Linked DNA regions of Homo sapiens. The protein of the gene in region 2 interacts with the protein of the main gene of each other region in a pairwise test. Each region holds a gene or a part of one and is shown on either strand. Other genes may lie near its edges.

What was found. The genes of interacting proteins can lie anywhere in the genome.
Region 1: the proteins of PBLD (region 2) and GRAP2 interact in binary tests that used the Homo sapiens proteins (3 or more experiments, as listed by UniProt).

The regions. Positions count from the first base shown.
Region 1 is NC_000022.11:39,963,514-39,967,243, reverse strand, and holds part of GRAP2 (GRB2-related adapter protein 2), read right to left. Parts: intron 3,325-3,730; exon of another isoform or gene 2,870-3,324; coding exon of another isoform or gene 2,675-2,869; exon of another isoform or gene 2,339-2,674; intron 1,255-2,338; coding exon 1,086-1,254; intron 1-1,085. Other genes in the region: TMA7B (translation machinery-associated protein 7B), read right to left, coding at 2,675-2,869. UniProt on the Homo sapiens protein: Interacts with SLP-76 to regulate NF-AT activation. Binds to tyrosine-phosphorylated shc.
Region 2 is NC_000010.11:68,322,929-68,326,428, reverse strand, and holds part of PBLD (phenazine biosynthesis-like domain-containing protein), read left to right. Parts: intron 1-3,500.

The DNA.
Region 1 (3,730 bases), on a different chromosome or scaffold from region 2:
GGTAACTTCTTTTCTCCTTTGGCAGTAACTTCTCAGGCTTAAAAGCAACTAGGGACTCGAAAAAGGAGGATTTTCTTGACTTCCCCAAAGCACACATTGCTTTCACAGTCTCAATATCTTTTCAAATAACCTGTCCCTAGGATTTCAGCTATTCTAGTGAATGCTTCTTCCTATGATACCTGTCTCTTATAACCATGTTATTTCCTTTGAAAAATAGTTCATAAATTGGTGTGTGTGTGTGTGTGTGAGTGTGTGCATGTGTGAATTTACTTATGGGAGGCAAGTTAACATGTTCTTAGTGTTTAATATGGACCAGACTCTGGTAGTGCTTAGCTGTATTAAGTCATTTAATCCTCACAACAGCCCAGTGAGGGAGGTTTTATTGCTCTCTCCATTCTACAGATGAGAAAACTGATACTCAGATGGTTTCTTAACTTGGCTAGGTAATACAGGTAGCTAAGCGATTAAAGCAGGATTTCATACCAGGTCTGTCTGACGCATTTCCTTTTAAAGCAATAGTCTGTATTGCAAACAGTTGCAACAGCAATAATTCCAAGTGCAGTTTTCTCCTCCCATGTCCTCCCTACCCCCAATCCCATCATAAAACTCCACATGCTGATTTAACTCCTGAACTCTAGGCTGTTCCCTAATGTCCCTGTCTGTAGCACCCCCAACTCCTTCATCCTTGGGCAACTCTTGAGCTAGGTTGAAAACTTTGGTGTAGCAATGTCTATGAATAACAAAAAAACAGCACCTGTGGTAAGAGCTGATGCTTGCTGAGCGCAGTGTGATGAGGAATGACATGAGGCGTGGGATACATTATCTTCTCCAACCTTCACAGCCATTCTGGGAGGTAGATATTACCATTGTCCCTACTTTATGGATGAGGAAACTGAGGCGCAGAGAACTTTCCAAAGTCACACGACTAGGAAGTGTTAAGTTGAGATCTGACCTCAGAGCTCTGAGCTCTGTCTTTCAGTATACTCAGAGGATCTACCCATCCTATGCATTTTTCCTGGTGGTTCATGTGAGAACTCAGGCTGCCTAAAATCTCTAGATTGGGGTCGACTGGATCTGGAGCATACCTGGTCTTCTCGGGTTCTGTCTCTAAGGAAGATCTGCTTCTGTCTGGAGATGGAATTTGTCCTGTAGTAGTCTACCAGCTTATTTAGGGATGGAAACTTCTCAGTCCACAGAAAGTAATTACCCTTGTTGTCTCGCATGACCTTGAAGTGTTGAACGTCATCCTCATGCCTGGAGATCAAGGCAAAACAAAATTGTATGTTACACGGTGATAATGTCACCACCTCCAGGCTGCTCACATCTGGGATGGTGGAGTTCTCTTTGAGCAGGAGATGTAGATATGGATGACTCACTCATCACTGGGCAGGTGGGCCAGCCCAGTCAGGCTTCGGCAGGAACTTTGTAGGATGGACCACTTAGGATACAGGCTATGCTAGACGGGATTTACATCAGCAGAAGGTAATCAGATGAGCTAAAATTTGTTTTGGACACTGGAACTAACCTTTTACAAGAAAAGCATGTTCCAAGTGACTTAACGACAAAGAGATCAAAGACCTTTTCACAATGTTTATTCGCAAGATGTCAACAGGGGTATTTCAAGCTCCTATTATCTTTCTGTTACCAGAAATTCTTTGAACCATCTCCTTTAAGCCCATAAGCTAGCACTGGCAGGTAAGAAGCTACTCTCTTTCCTAAGAAATATGTCACATTTTTTCTCTATGTAATAAGGATCTCTTGATCTTGGTTTATGTTTTGCATAAATAAGGTTACAAAGTGTTTTCAGCTTTTGGTGAAATAGCTTTGTATGAAATACAGAGTTTTTGTTTGTTTGTTTGTTTTGTTTTTTTGAGATGGAGTCTCACTCTGTCGCCCAGGCTGGAGTGCAGTGGTGTGATCTCTGCTCACTGCAACCTCCGCCTCCCAGGTTCAAGCGATTCTCCTGTCTCAGCCTCCTGAGGAGCTGGGATTACAGGCACCCACCACCAAGTCTTTAGTAAAGACGGGGTTTCGCCATGTTGGTCAGGCTGGTCTTGAAGTCCAGACCTCCGGTGATCCACCTGCCTTGGCCTCCCAAAGTGCTGGGATTACAGGTGTGAGGCACTGCGCCCTGTGAAATGATAGAGTTTTAATTGGCAAGGATGTTGGAGATTGTTTAGCCTTACTTCTCCATTTTACAGATGAGGACACTGAGGCTCACAGAGGTGCAGGGGCTTGGTCAAGGTCACTGCTGAGTAAGGGCTGAGGCCAGAACCCTGAGTCTCTGACTCCAGTCTAGTGAGCTTGGCCTGTCACGCCACCTAAACATGATAACTTCTTTTTTCTTTCAAATGAGTTGGTTTAATTTCAGGTGATACAAAGTTTAGGGTAGAACAACGACCAAAGAGCAGATTCTGGCAAGATTCTGAGCTGGTTTTACTTTAAATTCACAGTTATGGTAGGAATGACTTAGTGAAAACAACTAAAGAGATGATGAGCCACTGGAAGATTTTTTTTTTTTTTTTTTTACAAAAGTTTATTCTTAAATGTACAACAGCTCCAAGACGACACTTAATTCCAACTATAGGTGGCAAAAGATATTATAGGAGGGAATAGAGAGGTTTAAATACGGATGAAATAAAGGGTCACCGTCTCCTTAGGCACAAGGAACAGCTTATTTTTTGCCAGATTTCTTAATTCCACCTGTGGCCAGAGGCCCCTTCCCCACGACCTTCGCTTTTAGCACCTCGAGTTTCTTCTGCTCCTCTTTTTGTTTCTGCTTGAAAGCCTTCTCTTCCTCGTCCATCTCCTTGGCCTGCTTCTTGGGCTGTTTCAGTGCCTTCTTCTTGCCACCTTCGTGGCTGGACATGGCGCCTGCCGCCCCTTCCCCAGACCCTGCCACTGGACGATAACTTCTTTTAGATCAGCACCTTTTGTTGCCAGTCTGGACTCACAAGTGATGGGACACATTCGAACCAGGGCTAGAGAAAATGGATTTTATCCATCTAGGAAGGGTGGGCTGAGCCTTTACCATTAGATCCAGTTTTACTTCATTGCCAAGTCATTCTCTTTTGGATGTAAAGTTTATTTTTCAAACAGACATACATTTATATCTAAAAATAAACTGGCACTAGTGATGCCAATTGCCTGATGTAAAAGAAAGGTCAAGAATTTTAAAGGGTCTCGGAGAGTAAAGATACCTCTGAGAGTAAGTGGAGGTTTCTTTTTGAGTCAGAGTCTCGCTCTGTCGCCCAGGCTGGAGTGCAGTGGCGTGATCTCTGCTCACTGCAAGCACCACCTCCCAGGTTCATGCCATTCTCCTGCCTCAGCCTCCCAAGTAGCTGGGACTACAGGCGCCCGCCACCACGCCCGGCTAAGTTTTGTATTTTTAGTAGAGACGGGGTTTCATCGTGTTAGACAGGATGGTCTCGATCTCCTGACCTCATGATCCGCCCACCTCAGCCTCCCAAAGTGCTGGGATTACAGGCGTGAGCCACTGCGCCTGACCATGGAGGTTTCTTAGGGATGGATTTAGGGACCTGTGTTAAGAAGGAGATGGAAATTCTGACCCTCAATCTCATCTTATGTGCTGGGATTTGCTCATAGCTGGGTGAAGCCACAGGTTGTACAAGTGGCCTCTTGCTTGACTGATTTCGGGTGGTAATCAACATATTGCAATCACTTTGTGGTCTTCCCCTTGGTTTTGGCCACCAACAGATACTTTCTTCAT
Region 2 (3,500 bases):
TATTAATAAATGGAAATTGATTTGAGAGCATTACTGAATTCCTAGTAGGTCAGTATATGTTTCCATCCATCCATAAAAAATACAAGTACAGCTTGGCACAGTGGCTCATGCCTGTAATCCCAGCACTCTAGTAGGCCGAAGCTGGCGGATCACTTGAGATCAGGAGTTCAAGATCAGCCTGGGCAACATGGTGAGACCACGTCTCTACTAAAAATACAAAAATAATTAACCGGGCATGATACTGCATGCCTGTAATCCCAGCTACTCAGGAGGCGGAGGTTGCAATGAGCCGAAATTGCGCCACTGTGCTCCAACCTCGGCAACAGAGTAAGACTCCATCTCAAAAAACAAAAACAAAACAAAACAGAAAAATCAAGTACATTCTATAATGTTGGATGAGCTAAAAAAAAAATGCACGTACATAAAGTGAACCTGTCCCTGACTTTCAAGAGCATACAGATACATTCCATTACATAGATAAATTACATTAAACTGTAGCAAGTGACAAAATAGGGTAAGCACAGAGTGTTTGGGGAGCACAGAATCTGGCCATTCACACAGTCTAGGGCTTCAGAGAAAGCTTTCTGAAGGAGACAACTCATGAGTTAAGTGTTGGAGGATAAGTAAAATTTAGTGGGGCAATGAAAAATAGGAAAAGCATTTACAGTTGAGGACGCAGTAAGATCCAAGGCATGGATGTACAAAATAACGGCAGAAGTGGAAACTCTAAGCAGGTGAAACATTGTAAAATAAGGAAGTAGGTAGGAACCAGATCTTGGAGAAGTTTGTGTGCTACCCTATGGAGCTTGGCTTTTAAGATTGATGATCAATGTAGTGCTTTTTGGGTTTTTTTGTATTGTTTTTGAGATGCAGTCTCACTGTGTTTCCCAGGCTTGAGGGCAGTGGCGTGATCTCAGCTCATTGCAATCTTTGCCTCCCAGGTTCAGGTGATTCTCCTGCCTTAGCCTCCTGAGTAGCTGGGACTACAGGCATACACCACCACGCCTGGCTAATTTTTGTATTTTTAGGTAGACACGGGGTTTCACCATGTTGGCCAGGCTGGTCTCAAACTCCTCACCTCAAGTGATCCACCTCTCTTGGCCACACAAAGTGCTGGGATTACAGGCATGAGCCGCCATTCCCGGCCAATGTAGTGGGTTTTTGTTTTGTTTTGTTGTTTTCCCTGAGACGGAGTCTTGTTTTGTCACCCAGTCTGGAGTGCAGTGGCACAGTCTCAGCTCACTGCAACTTCCGCCTCCCGGGTTCAAGCAATTCTCCTGCCTCAGCCTCCCGAGTCGCTGGGATTACAGGTGCCTGCCACCGCACCTGGCTACTTTTTGTATTTTCAGTAGAAACAGGGTTTCACCATGTTGGCCAGGCTGGTCTTGAACTCCTGACCTCGTGATCTGCCTGTCTCGGCCTCCCAAAGTTCTGGGATTACAGGTGTGAGCAACTGCACCTAGCCCAGATGTAGTGTTTTAATTAGATAGTTCTGATTAAAGTGTGGAGAGTTGGCTGGGCATGATGGCTCACGCCTGTAATCCCAGCACTTTGGGAGGCCAAGGCATGTGGATCATTTGAGGTCAGGAGTTCAAGACCAGCCTGGCCAACATGGTGAGACCCTGTCTGTACTAAAAATACAAAAATTAGCCGGGCAATAGTGGCACATGCCTGTAATCTCAGCTACTTGGGAGGCTGAGGCAGGAGAATCGTTTGAGCCTGTGAGGCAGAGGTTGTGGTGAGCTGAGATTGTGCCACTGCACTCCAGTCTGGGCGAGTGACACCCTGTCTCTAAATAAATAAATAAATAAATAAATAAATAAAGTGTGGAGGGTAGATATTGGGAGGGTAAGAAGAGAGAAGACTAGGAGAAGGACCAGTAGAGATGATGAATACTTAAACTAGAGCAATGGTATTAGGGATAGATACAGGAGGCTCTCTTTAAGAAATATTTGGCTGGGCACAGTGGCTCACACCTGTAATCTCAGCACTTTGGGAGGCCAAGGTGGGCAGATCATGAGGTCAAGAGATCGAGACCATCCTGGCCAACATGGTGAAACCTCATCTCTACAAAAAATACAAAAATTAGCTGGGCATGGTGGCGCGCACCTGTAGTCCCAGCTACTTGAGAGGCTGAGGCAGGAGAATCGCTTGAACCCAGGAGGCAGAGGTTGCAGTGAGCCCAGATCGTGCCACTGCACTCCAGCCTGGCAACAGAGCGAGGCATGGTGGCGCACACCTGTGGTCCCAGCTCTATCTCAAAAAAAAAAAAGAAAATTAGGAGCTATTTATCAGCAGGGTTTAGTGCTTGAGTAGAAAGGCTGTGCATGGGTGAGTGAAAAGAAGTCAAGGATGAATTATTTTTGGCTTAGGGTTGGATGCTGAGAATTTTAACTGACATAGGAAATACAGGAATATCGGGTGTGTTGATTTTGAGATGCCATGTACTGTCCGAGTGAATGTGTCTAGTAGGAAATTAATCTGGATAGGAATGTAGATTTGGCATTCATTGACATATATTTTGCTTTTATACTTCAAAATAAGTTTTTTGGGATGGCCTCAGGCTAAGTAAATTTGCTGTGGAATCTGTTGTAAAAACTAGAATGAGAATTTATTATTTACAGTGAAGAATATAACTATCAAACAAATGGAATGCAAATTATCCCAGTGTTTTTGTGGGGGATACTTCTGAATATTCTACATAAAAGGAAGTATACTCTATTAGTTATTATTGCTGTGTAACAAATTGCTCCAAAACTTAACAGCTTAAAACAACAAACTTTTATTATTTCATAATTTCTGTGGATCAGAAATCTTGGGGCAGCTTAGCTGGATGCTTCTAGCCCAGGATCTCTTTTTCTTCTTTTTTGAGATGGAATCTCACTCTGTCCCTCAGGCTGGAGTGCAGTGGTGTGCTCAGCTCACTGCAACCTCTGCCTCATGGGTTCAAGCTGTTCTCCAGCCTCAGCCTCCTGAGTAGCTGGGATTACAGGTATGCTCCACGAAGCCTGGCTAATTTTTGTATTTTTAGTAGAGACGGGTTTTCCCAATGTTGGCCCACCTGGTCTTGAACCCCTGACTTCATGTGATCCACCCACTTTGGCCTCCCAAAGTGCTGGGATTACAGGCGTGAGCCACCATGCCCAGCCTAGGGTCTCTTATAAGGGTATAATTAAAATGTCAGCTGGAGCTTCAGTTATCTCAAGGGTCAACTAGGGTAGGATCTGCTTAAAAGCTCACTCCCATGGCTATTGGCAGGCCTCAGATCATTAAAAAAAATAAAATTTTAGATTTTTGAATAGTTGTAGATTTATAGAAAAGTTGCAAAGATATTACATAGAATTCCTATATATGGCTCACTCAGTTTCCTCTGTTAACATCTTATATTTGGCTGGCACAGTGGCTCACACCTGTAATCCCAGCACTTTGGGAGGCCAAAGAAGGAGGATTGCTTGAGACCAGGAGTTTGAGACCAGACTGAGCAACATAGTGAGATCTCA